3 linked regions of the Homo sapiens genome follow. The protein of the gene in region 1 purifies or fractionates together with the protein of each later gene. This does not show direct contact. Each region holds a gene or a part of one and is shown on either strand. Other genes may lie near its edges. The genes, in order: SLC44A2, GALNT2 and PON2.

What was found.
Region 2: the proteins of SLC44A2 (region 1) and GALNT2 purify together in Homo sapiens (affinity purification with mass spectrometry; one large-scale study listed by BioGRID and IntAct). This does not show direct contact.
Region 3: the proteins of SLC44A2 (region 1) and PON2 purify together in Homo sapiens (affinity purification with mass spectrometry; one large-scale study listed by BioGRID and IntAct). This does not show direct contact.

What each region holds. Positions count from the first base shown.
Region 1 is NC_000019.10:10,631,994-10,635,644, reverse strand, and holds part of SLC44A2 (choline transporter-like protein 2), read right to left. Parts: intron 3,602-3,651; coding exon 3,489-3,601; intron 890-3,488; coding exon 758-889; intron 672-757; coding exon 572-671; intron 483-571; coding exon 390-482; intron 215-389; coding exon 130-214; intron 1-129.
Region 2 is NC_000001.11:230,245,125-230,248,775, reverse strand, and holds part of GALNT2 (polypeptide N-acetylgalactosaminyltransferase 2 precursor), read right to left. Parts: intron 2,714-3,651; coding exon 2,626-2,713; intron 1-2,625. UniProt on the Homo sapiens protein: Catalyzes the initial reaction in O-linked oligosaccharide biosynthesis, the transfer of an N-acetyl-D-galactosamine residue to a serine or threonine residue on the protein receptor.
Region 3 is NC_000007.14:95,421,403-95,425,053, reverse strand, and holds part of PON2 (serum paraoxonase/arylesterase 2), read left to right. Parts: intron 1-468; coding exon 469-539; intron 540-1,365; exon of another isoform or gene 1,366-3,651. UniProt on the Homo sapiens protein: Capable of hydrolyzing lactones and a number of aromatic carboxylic acid esters. Has antioxidant activity. Is not associated with high density lipoprotein.

The sequences.
Region 1 (3,651 bases):
CCCACACCTAGCACAGGACATGCAACAGGGGCCAATTGTTTGCTGAACCTCCAAGTGGACATGAGAGGTTTCAAATCATCTGGGGCCTGCTGGGGCAATACCTGCCCTCCCCACCCCGGGGACGCCCACCTCTGGGTTGCAGGTTTTCGCAGTAAATGGGCAGGGGCTGTCATCAAAGATCTTATAGACCGCTTCGTTGGAAGTGGACAGGAAGCTGGAGGTTCGTTAAGGAAGCAGAGGTCTAGGACTGAGGACCCCAGGGACTTTTGTGGGAAAGAATCCATTCTCCCACCAGTTTCCAGCCCTATCCCTAAGCTGCAGGTCACTTCTAGGCAAAGTTGGTCTTTAGCCATCCCTGGGGTCAGAGATCAGTGTCTGGGGGCAGATACACAGCAGTGCTGGCCCAGTAGGCGATGCAGAGGCACAGCAAGAAGAAGGTGACCAGTGGGTAGAGCAAGGAGCACATGACGTATCCCACAGCCCTAGGGAAGAGCAGAGACACAGGCGTCAGGGCAAAAGACACAACTCTAGGGACAGCTCCATCCTGGCCCCTGGCACCCTGGCCCCCCACCTGCTGGCTTCTTTGATGAGTGCAATCGCGATGAGAATTCTCTTCCGGAGAAAGATGAGCAGCAAGATGATAATGACTTCAAGGATACTCAGAATGATCACTGCAAAGGGCAAAGGCTGAGCCGGCTGGGCTCCCCACTCCCTCCAAGGCCTCATGTGGGGGCAGGAATGGGAGACTGTGACTCACTAAAGGCCAACCAGGTCTGCCGTAAGTGCAGGTACACCCGGAAATCCGTCTGAAAGCCGAGGTCCACCAAAGAGACATCAGAGCCGGCCTCACCACGCAGTCGGGAGTACTCCATGTAGCAGTGAAATATTCCTGCATGGGGGAACCACAAGCTCAGTCCAGCAGTGCCTCCTGCAACTTTGCAAAGCAGCTACAACTGCCCCCATTTAACAGAAGCAAACATCGAGGCTTCTGCCTCAGGGACTTTACACTTGCAGTTCCCACCGCCCGGTGCATTCTCTCCCCATGGCTGGATCCCACACATCCTTAGGTCTCTGCTCAAGTGTCACCTTCAGAAGAGAACTTCCAGAACCCTTTCCCCCTACTTGGAATCATAATCATATGCTGCCATGGTCTAAGTTCTCTCTCTTTTTTTTTTTTTTTGAGACGGAGTTTCACTCTTGTTGCCCAGGCTGGAGTTCAATGGCACAATCTCGGCTCACCGCAACCTCCACTTCACGGGTTCAAGCGATTCTCCTGCCTCAGCTTCCCGAGCAGCTGGGATTACAGGCATGCGCCACCATGCCCGGCTAATTTTGTATTTTTAATAGAGATGGGGTTGGCCGGGCGCGGTGGCTCACGCCTGTAATCCCAGCACTTTGGGAGGCCAAGACGGGTGGATCACGAGGTCAGGAGTTCGAGACCAGCCTGACCAACATGGTGAAACCCCGTGTCTACTAAAAATACAAAAAAAAAAAAAAAAAAAAAAAATTAGCTGGGCGTGGTGGTGGGCGCCAGTAATCTCAGCTACTCAGGAGACTGAGGTAGGAGAATTGCTTGAACCCGGGAGGCGGAGGTTGCAGTGAGCTGAGATCGCGCCACTGCACTCCAGCCTGGGCGACAGTGAGAGACTCTGTCTCAAAAAAAAAAAAAAATAGAGATGGGGTTTCTACATGTTGGTCAGGCTGGTCTCGAACTCCCAACCTCAGGTGATCCGCCCACCTCTGTCTCCCAAATTGCTGGGATTACAGGCGTGCGCCACCGCACCCAGCTAGAAACCACTATTAATATGAATATTTTACTATGAGTGTCCTCAAATTGGATTGCCAAGCATTTTTCTTCCAGGAAAGTTCAAGGAATAATCAAAATATGGGCCAGGCACAGTGGCTTGCGCCTGTAATCCCAACACTTAGGGAGGCCAAGGCGGGAGGACTGCTCAAGCTCAGGAGTTCAAGACTAGCCTGGGCCACATAGGGAGAACCTGTCTCTACAAAAATATTAAAAATTTAGCCAGGCATGATGGTGCTTGCCTGTGGTTTCAGCTACTTGGGAGGCCAAGACGGGAGGATCACTTGAGCCCAGGAGGTCAAGGCTGCAGTGAGCTGTGATTGTGCCACTGAACTCCAGCCTGGGTGACAGAGTGAGACTCTGTCTCAAAAAACAAATCAAGGCTGGGCGCGGTGGCTCACGTCTGTAATCCCAGCACTTTGGGAGGTCGAGGCAGGCAGATCACGAGGAAGTCGAGACCAGCCTGGCCAATATGGTAAAACCCCATCTCTACTAAAAATACAAAAAAAATTAGCCGGGCATGGTGGTGTGCGCCTGTAATCCCAGATACTCGGGAGGCGAGGTAGGAAAATTGCTTGAACCCGGGAGGCAGAGATTGCAGTGAGCCGAGACTGCACCACTGCACGCCAGCCTGGGTGACAAAGCAAGACTCCGTCTCAACAACAACAACAAAACAACAACTCAAAAACAACAAAAATCCAAAATATGAAGCACTGTTTTGTTGAGCACGATATTGTGCCTCTGGATTCCACAGGCCTGAACTAAACAGGCCCCTACCCATATTTTATCTGCTCATTACCTCCTTGTCATTTAGTTTGCCAACTAGAAATATGAATTACCCTCATTTTATAGAGAAATAAATTGAAGCAGTCCGGGCGCGGTGGCTCCTGCCTGTAATCCTAGCACTTTGGGAGGCTGAAGCGGGCAGATCTCCTGAGGCCAGGAGGTCGAGACCAGCCTGACCAACATGGAGAAACCCCATCTCTACTAAAAATACGAAATCAGCCGGGCATGGAGGTGCATGCCTGTAATCCCAGCTACTTGGGAGGCTGAGGCAGGAGAATAGCTTGGACCCAGGAGGCGGAGGTTGCAGTGAGCCAAGATCGCGCCATGGCACTCCAGCCTGGGTGACAAGAACAGAACTCCGTCTCAAAAAAAAAAAAGAAAGAAATTGAAGCACAGTTAGGTTGAGGCACTTGCCCAAAGAATTGGCAAAGCCAGGATTTGAACCTCTGCTATTCTGATACCAGAGTATGCATCCTTAACTACGGTGCTGAGACATTTTTTCTTTTTTTTTTTTTTTTGAGATGGAGTTTCGCTCTTGTTGCCCAGGCTGGAGTGCAATGGCGTGATTTCGGCTCACCACAACCTCCGCCTCCCAGGTTCAAGCGATTCTCCTGCCTCAGCCTCCTGAGTAGCTGGGATTACAGGCATGCACCTCCATGCCCGGCTGATTTTGTATTTTTAGTAGAGACGGGGTTTCTCCATGTTGGTCAGGCTGGTCTTGAACTCCTGACCTCGGGTGATCTGCCTGCCTCGGCCTCCCAAAGTGCTGGGATTACAGGCGTGAGCCACCACGCCCGGCCTGACTTTTTTTTGTTTTCCTGATGGGCCATTTCCACGGGAAAGGGCAGGGCAGTGTGCGGATTCAGGAAAGAGAAGCCACAGGGAGGGGGTGACGCACCGTAGCCCAGCACCAGAATCACCATGATGATCATCACCCAGACCATAATACCAGCCAGGAAGCGAAGCAGGATGATGAACAGGAGGCTCATCGCCATGGCAATGACCAGGCCTCTGGGGAAAAGAAAACGGTCATGAACAGACTCCACCCTCAGCCAGGCTTA
Region 2 (3,651 bases), on another chromosome or scaffold:
CAGGGGAAGGCAATGCTGGGGAGGGAACGAGGCTTTGTCAGTTCCCTGGGCCAGCAAACTTCAGACTGTATTTGCAGCAAGAATGGAGTGGGAACATGCTGGGAATATGAAAACTTTAAGGGAAAATGAGCCAGCGGAAGTTGCCAAGCTGGGCAAATAAGCTTCAATTTCAGATATATTTGGCACCTGTTGCATTTCATTTTTGGAATCCACAGACCCCTGAGGATAGAAGAGCCTAGACCCTGTACCCGGACTTGGTTGTGGGCATCTGCAGGGCCTCAGGTCTCGCTCTTGCTCCCAGGGTCACACACATAGTGCCTCTTGGAGGCCAGCAGGCTCCACCTGCGGAAGCTGTCCTGGTGCATCAGGAGGCCACTTCTTGGCAAACACATGGCTCATGGTGCTGCATTTCCAATTCCAAGGGTCTGACAGCAAAACCTAATGACTCTAGGGCATGCATCTTTCAATCCTCTTAAGCTCTCTGCCATCAGGCTTTTTGTCAACAGGGCTTTTGCAATGCCTAAGTTTGGATTTGTCTGCATGCTTTGAATTCATAGTCTGTCCGCCCTGACAGCCCCAGTGACTGAAGGATGGCGGGTGAGGGTTTCTGAGTGTCCTGGGCTGGCCAAGAATTTATGGCTCTGGACAAAGAGGCCTCCCAGCTCCCTCACTGCAGGATAGAGTGGCCTCAGGCAAAGAGAGAGGGAAATGGACAGGGGCCCAGGCAGTGGGGACAGAAATGCACAGAGAGGAGACCCCTGCGGGCCCCTGAGCTGGCTCTTATCATGGTGCCTCAAAGGCCACGAAGGAAAACCAGAAAAACAATGTCCTGGCTGTTTCACTAACAGAGAAGGTTAAGGATTAGCTGACATAACCTTTCCTTTGTTTTTTTGATGTTTACTATTATCTTATTATTTATTTTATTAATTTGGTCCAAAGAGAGAGGCTATAGCAGATTAAAGATCTGTTAAGAATGGCATCCTTGATTTTTTTTCTAAAGGAATTTCATAAAATGCTCTTAGGGTGAACGTGGCCCCGTTCCTCTGACCCAGAAGACCTGCACCCCCACACGGAACACCTGGCTGTTCTTGCCCCTGCTCTGACATACGCAGCTGCTTTGGGAGAAATAGAGCCTGGTAGATCTCAGCTCTTCGAATACTTGGGGAAATACAACATTCTGAAAGCCAGGCTTTCTAGCTATCTAAGGATCCCTCCTCTTTAATGTCCCCAAACATTTTACTTCTCACCATTTGCTGGGAATCGTTCCTGAATGTTATGTTTCCCACCCTAGGTACAGTCCTCCAAGCATGCCCGCCCTCCCGCTGATGTCTAATTCCATTATGCCCTGTGTGGCCAGCACAATTATCATCCCATTTCCCAGAGGGGGAAGCTGAGAAGCAGAGGCAAAATGGCCTGCCCATGATGACGGGGCCTGCAAGAGGCAGGTGGGGCCAAAGCCCACAATGTCTAGGACCGTGGCTGAGTCTCCCTAAAAAGTCCAAGTATTCTGTTTTCTGGGGTTAAGGCTTGCTTGCACACATATGTGTGTGTGTATGAATAAGCAGGGTCTCACTCTGTCTCCCAGGGTTGATCGTGGCTCACTGCAGCCTTGACCTCCCAGGCTCAAGTGATCCTCCCACCTTAGCCCCGAGTAGCTGGCATGCCATCACACGCAGCTAATTTTTTTTTTTTTTTTTAATAGAGACAAGAGTCTTGTTATGTTGCCCAGGCTGGTCTTGAACTCCTGGGCTCAAGCAATCCTCCCACCTTAGCCTCCCCAAAGTGCTGGGATTATAAGCGTGAGCCACTGCACCTGGTCAAGGCCCTATTTTATAGTTTTACTGTCTTCTTTTTTGATGTTAGACCATCAGTTAACCCTCTGCCCAGTGTCTATCTAGAATAGTTCATCTTCACACAGATGAAAGCTCTTTGAGGTCTTTGATAATTTTTAAGAGGGTAAACAGACAAAGTGCTCTTGGGGCTCCAGGGTGGGTGCGGTGAGGACATACAGGAAACTGGTGTGGTCATTCCAACGGAAGGGGACCAGGGTGATGTAGGCACAGGTGTTGGGCTGGGAAAGAGGGGTACAAGAAACCATGATACATGCAAGGGGCTGTATCAGCAGAACAGGGTCACACGTGGGCTTGGTGAGGGCGAGGGGGTTGAGGATGACACAGGTCTCCATCTGAGCAACCAGAAAGAGACCAGGCTGTCAGAGAAATAGCCAGGGTGAGCAGAGAAGGCAAAGACAGGCTCCAGCCCCTTGAATCCCACAAAGCCTCAGCTCCGTGAAGCTTCTCACCCCAGATTCCTGCAAGGAGGGCTTCATCATCTCTGGTCATAAAGGACGCCATATCTGTTCATGGAACCACATGGCTCGCAAAAGTGACAGAAGGTCAAGGAAGAGGAGAAAGGGAAACCCAGGAAGCTCTTTAAGGGAGCAAGCCTATTTTTTTTTCTCTTTATGAAGTCCTACTCGTTAAGCACACAGGTGGTTTTTACTCAGAACACACACTACGGCGTGAACACTGTTGTCACTGTCACTCCTGACAATGAGAGGGAGTGGTGATCAGATGCTGGTGTAGACGGGACGAGCTAGGCAGGGGCACCATGACAGACACCTACCGCCCTTCAAGTCAGCAGATGCCCCCACATACTGAAAGTTGTCCATATTAATGACATCGATGATGGGTGACACAACCCGAGTCCTGTCCTAAAATACAAAGAGAGGAGTAGTTATCAAAATCCCAGCAAAACAAAAAACCTGCCCAACCACAGAAGGCATTAGTATTAGGCAGGCACAGGGCAAACCCAACTGGCCCTTACTACCTACTACCCTAGGCCCTCAAGAACCCAGCCTCCCCACCCAGACCCAGAAGGTCTTGCTCTTGGCCATCCACAGATGTGCTGTGGCCTGCTGGGAGGCAGGGAGGGAGGTCAGGAGTGGGTGCGTAGCAGGAGTCACTCTAGGAGTGGAGACACCCATGGTTATGGGACAGGTAGCCATCAGTTCACCCAGCTAAAGGCAAAAACTGTGTTGCTGTGTCCCAAGGGTCCTTTTCTGTTTGCCCAAATACCATTAGTGATTTGTGAGCTGCAGTAAACTTCAGGAATGGAGTCACTGCTAAAATGCTCATACATCAAAATTAGGAATATATTTCTATGTGGGAGTGTGTGTGTGTGAGAGAGATGTGGTAAGTATCAATATTATCACAGCAGAAGGTTAACCAAATCAACCAGAGATTTCCAGATTCTACGTTTGCCTCATCTGTAATTCTATCTTTTTTGTTTTTTTGTTTTGTTTTTTTTTTGAGACGGAGTTTCACTCTTGTTGCCCAGGCTGGAGTGCAATGGCGTGATCTTGGCTCACCACAACCGCCGCCTCGCGGGTTCAAGTGATTCTACTGCCTCAGCCTCCCAAGCAGCTGGGATTACAGATATGCACCACCACGCCCAGCTAATTTTTGTATTTTTAGTAGAGATGGGATTTCTCCATGTTGGTCAGGCTATTCTTGAACTTCTGACCTCAGGTGATCTGCCTGCCTCGGCCTCCCAAAGTGCTGGGATTACAGGCGTGAGCCACTGCGTCCAGCCCCTGTGATTCTATTAAAAAAAAAAAATCCCCCTAGATTGAGCCATGTCTTTATGCCA
Region 3 (3,651 bases), on another chromosome or scaffold:
GGTGTGTCAGGCTCTGAGCAATGCCATTTTCTCTTGGCTTCTTTGCAGTCTCTGTGTGAGGCTTACAGTCATTTTTCACGTTTGACTCTTCAGAAGGAAGACAGGGCTACTGGTTCTACATCTGGAACTCTTTTCCCACAACACCAACACTGAGAAATGTGACATGGTGCTGTGTTTACATTTGCATAGGAACTTGCATTATAAGTTTTATTTGTTGAGTTATTGGCTTTTTTTTTTTAATAACCCACATCAGTATATAGAACTTTGCAATAGGCATTTTTGTTTTAACTTCATTTCTGGTGCAGTTTTATTTTCCTACCCTTGTCTTTCTATTTTCTCTTTCATCTGCTTTAGACTTAAACTGTGTTTTATGTATTGCTGTAAGCCTCTTTAAACCCTTTCTAAAACAAAGCAGGGAATACATAAACAAATAGTTTTTTGTTTTTTGTTTTTTTTTCTTTGTAACAGAAATCGACTTAAAGCCTCCAGAGAAGTAGAATCTGTAGACCTTCCACACTGCCACCTGATTAAAGGAATTGGTATGTATATGAAAATGCTTGTTGGGCACATTGCATTTTTTGGCCATTAACATTAAAACACTCATTAATGGCATTTTAGCATGAAATTACTGCTTTTCAGTGGATAAATCACATTAGATCAACAAAAACCTCTTTGGTCAACCTCTTGATCTGATGAACCCTGTATTTATTCTTCTTTCCTACCCTCACTGTAAATTATTCTTTTTTGTGTGTAATTCTATGTTTAGCATTTGATTTCTTGCTTGTTTTGTGACTTCTCTGAACTATTTTTGTTGCGTCTGTATTGTTTGTCAGGTATGGCCGCTGCAGTCTGTGTTCTGTGAGCCTTGTGGTCAGCTAGTGAAGGAAGCTTTATGTAGGCAGTGACAGCATTTACCCTGCTCACTACTCTATAACTAGGATCTGATCTTATGGCTAACACGTAACTGACCAATATGGTTTGGTTGTGTCCCCACCCGAATCTCATCTTGAATTGTAGTTCCCATAATCCCCACGTGTTGTGGGAGGGACCCAGTGAGAGGTCATTGAATCATGAGGTGGTTACCCTGTGCTGCTGTTCTCGTGATAGTGAGTGAGTTCTCATGAGATCTGATGGTTTTATAAGGGCTTTTCCCCCTTTTGCTCGGCACTTCTCCTTGCTGCCGCCATGTGAAGAAGGGTGTGTTTTCTTCCCCTTCCACCAAGATTGTAAGTTTCCTGAAGCCTCCCCAACCACACGGAACAGTGAGTCAATTAAACCTCTTTCCTTTATAAATTACCCGGTCTCAGGTATGTCTTTATTAGCAGCCTGAGAACGGACTGATGTACCGGCACTTCACAATATGTATTGTAAAAACTTGTTTTTATTTTATCTTCTAAGCTATGACTGCAGAGGGGGAGTCTCCCTCTTCCCTTGACTTTATGTAGGATGTATTGTGGAGTCTGAGTCTTTGAGTAGGGGTTCCTAAGAGCAAGCCCCAATTTTGCTATAGATAAGGAGGGATCTGTCCAGATTCTTCTCCAGCACTGAGGGTCTCTCTGGTGTGTTTGCAGTTTTTCTCCAAGGTAGAGTCTGTGTCTTGCTGTCTTTTACCCTTTATCATCTACTAAGTACATGTCCCTAGTACATAATAGACTAGTAGTTAGATTATCAATGAACAATAAATATTGGCTTTCCTTTTTTTTAAATTTTAATTTTTTTTTTTTTTTTTTTTGAGAGGTGGCCTCACTTTGTCACCCAGGCCAGAATGCAGTAGCGCAATCTTGGCTCACTGCAGCCCTGATATCCTGGGCTCAAGCGATCCTCCCGCCTCGTCCTCCCAGGTAGCTGAGACTACAGGCACATGCCCCCACTCATGGCTAGTTTTTTATTTTTGTAGAGACAGGGTCTTGTTATGTTGTCCAGGCTGGTCTTGAACTCCTGGCCTCAAGCAATCCTCCCAGCTTGGTCTCCCAAAGTGCTGGGATTGCAGGCATGAGGCACTGAGCCCAGCCAATATTGGCTTTCCTTAGATATGGTTCATGGTATGATTAGAAACAAAAAGAATTAGCAGTCAAAACACCTAGTTTCTAGTTCTATTCTGCCACAATGTAACCTTAGGCAAAGTTGGTTTTTGTATTTGTCACCTATAATGATGAGTTTGTGATTAGACTAATGGTTTTTAGACTTTAAAAAGCCTGGGACCATTTATTTATAATCTTACTCTGAGAGCCACAGTGTGGAAATAACTAGACTGTCATTGAGTCACTTCTAGTCCTTTACAACAACATCCTTCTCTAGAGGTAGGAGAGACAATTTAATATTTTGTTTTACTCTTTAGAAATTAAAACTCGGGTTACATGGAAATGTTCTCTTCTCTGAATAGGTAACATTGTTAAACAAGTTTTGAGTGTCCTTCCATCTTTTTCTTTTTATGAATACTCCTGTACATAATTTTTAAAAACATAAGTGAGGTCAAATTATGCATAATATTTCAAAACTAGCTTTTTGTACTTAATACTAGGTTTTGGAAACTTATGTTTGTACATAATGTTACCTTTTCTTCACAACTGCACAGTATTTTTTGTGCAAAGTTCATATAAACAGTGTATGTGCAAACAATATAGAAAGATATAAAATGGAAAGTAAATAAAAATAAAAATCTCTCATCAAACTCTTCATCACCCCCAACAGAAATAACCCCAAAGATAAAGCTCCCTTTTTTATCTTTCCTGATAGTTTCAGTGCATTTGCAAACAAATATATTGACTCTTTTTTTCACAAATAGAATTTTAGTGTAAATATTTCACAACCTTCTTCATTCCTAAAACAGTGTGAGCAGCTTTCCACATCAGCATATATAGTTACTTTGTTCTTTTTAATATTTTCACATTCCATGATTTATTTAACCATTCCCCTTTTAATGTACATTTGGGTTGTTACAGTTTTTTGCAACTATGAACAAATCAGTGAACATCATTGCTGTTGAGTTTGTGTGTCTGTAGAATATGTCCTTAACAATGGGATTGTTGTTCCCTTAGAATATGTGTTTAGAGTTTTGACAGTCATTGCTAAGTTGCTCTCAATTTGGCAACAGTAATAAACTCAGTACCTCATAGTTGTAACCACATTCACTCCAGACAGAGTTCTCAGCACTCTTTTAGTAAAAATAAACCATCAGTTGACAGTGCCACCTTCAGAGTTTCTCTACAAATACCTTGCTTGCCTCCCTTTCTTTTTTTCTTCTTTTAAATCAGCTTCCTCAGGTTGATCTGCCTCTCATTCCTTAGGCATCTGTTTCCTATGTGTTCTTTCTCCTTTTTTTCATTGATACTTTTGTATTTCCCCAGTTCTACCTCCCCTCCCCTAGACTGGTTGGCTGTCCTGGAATTTCCCTTCCTTCTTTCAATTGCCCAAACACTAAGTGGGAGGAGGCAAACTCATATCAAATAGCAGATTGACTACATCTGTGCTGGATCATGCAGACAGTTCAAGAGTCCCAAGTAACTTAGCAGCTTCATCTTGCCTTCCAGCTGCAATCAAGAAGAGCCCTCTCAGAACTGGTCACTCAGCAAAAGCCAGATGGCATTAGTAAAAGATGTTGGGCAAGGGTGGGAGTTTGGGCCAGTGATCTCTTAGGTTACTTTTGCTGCT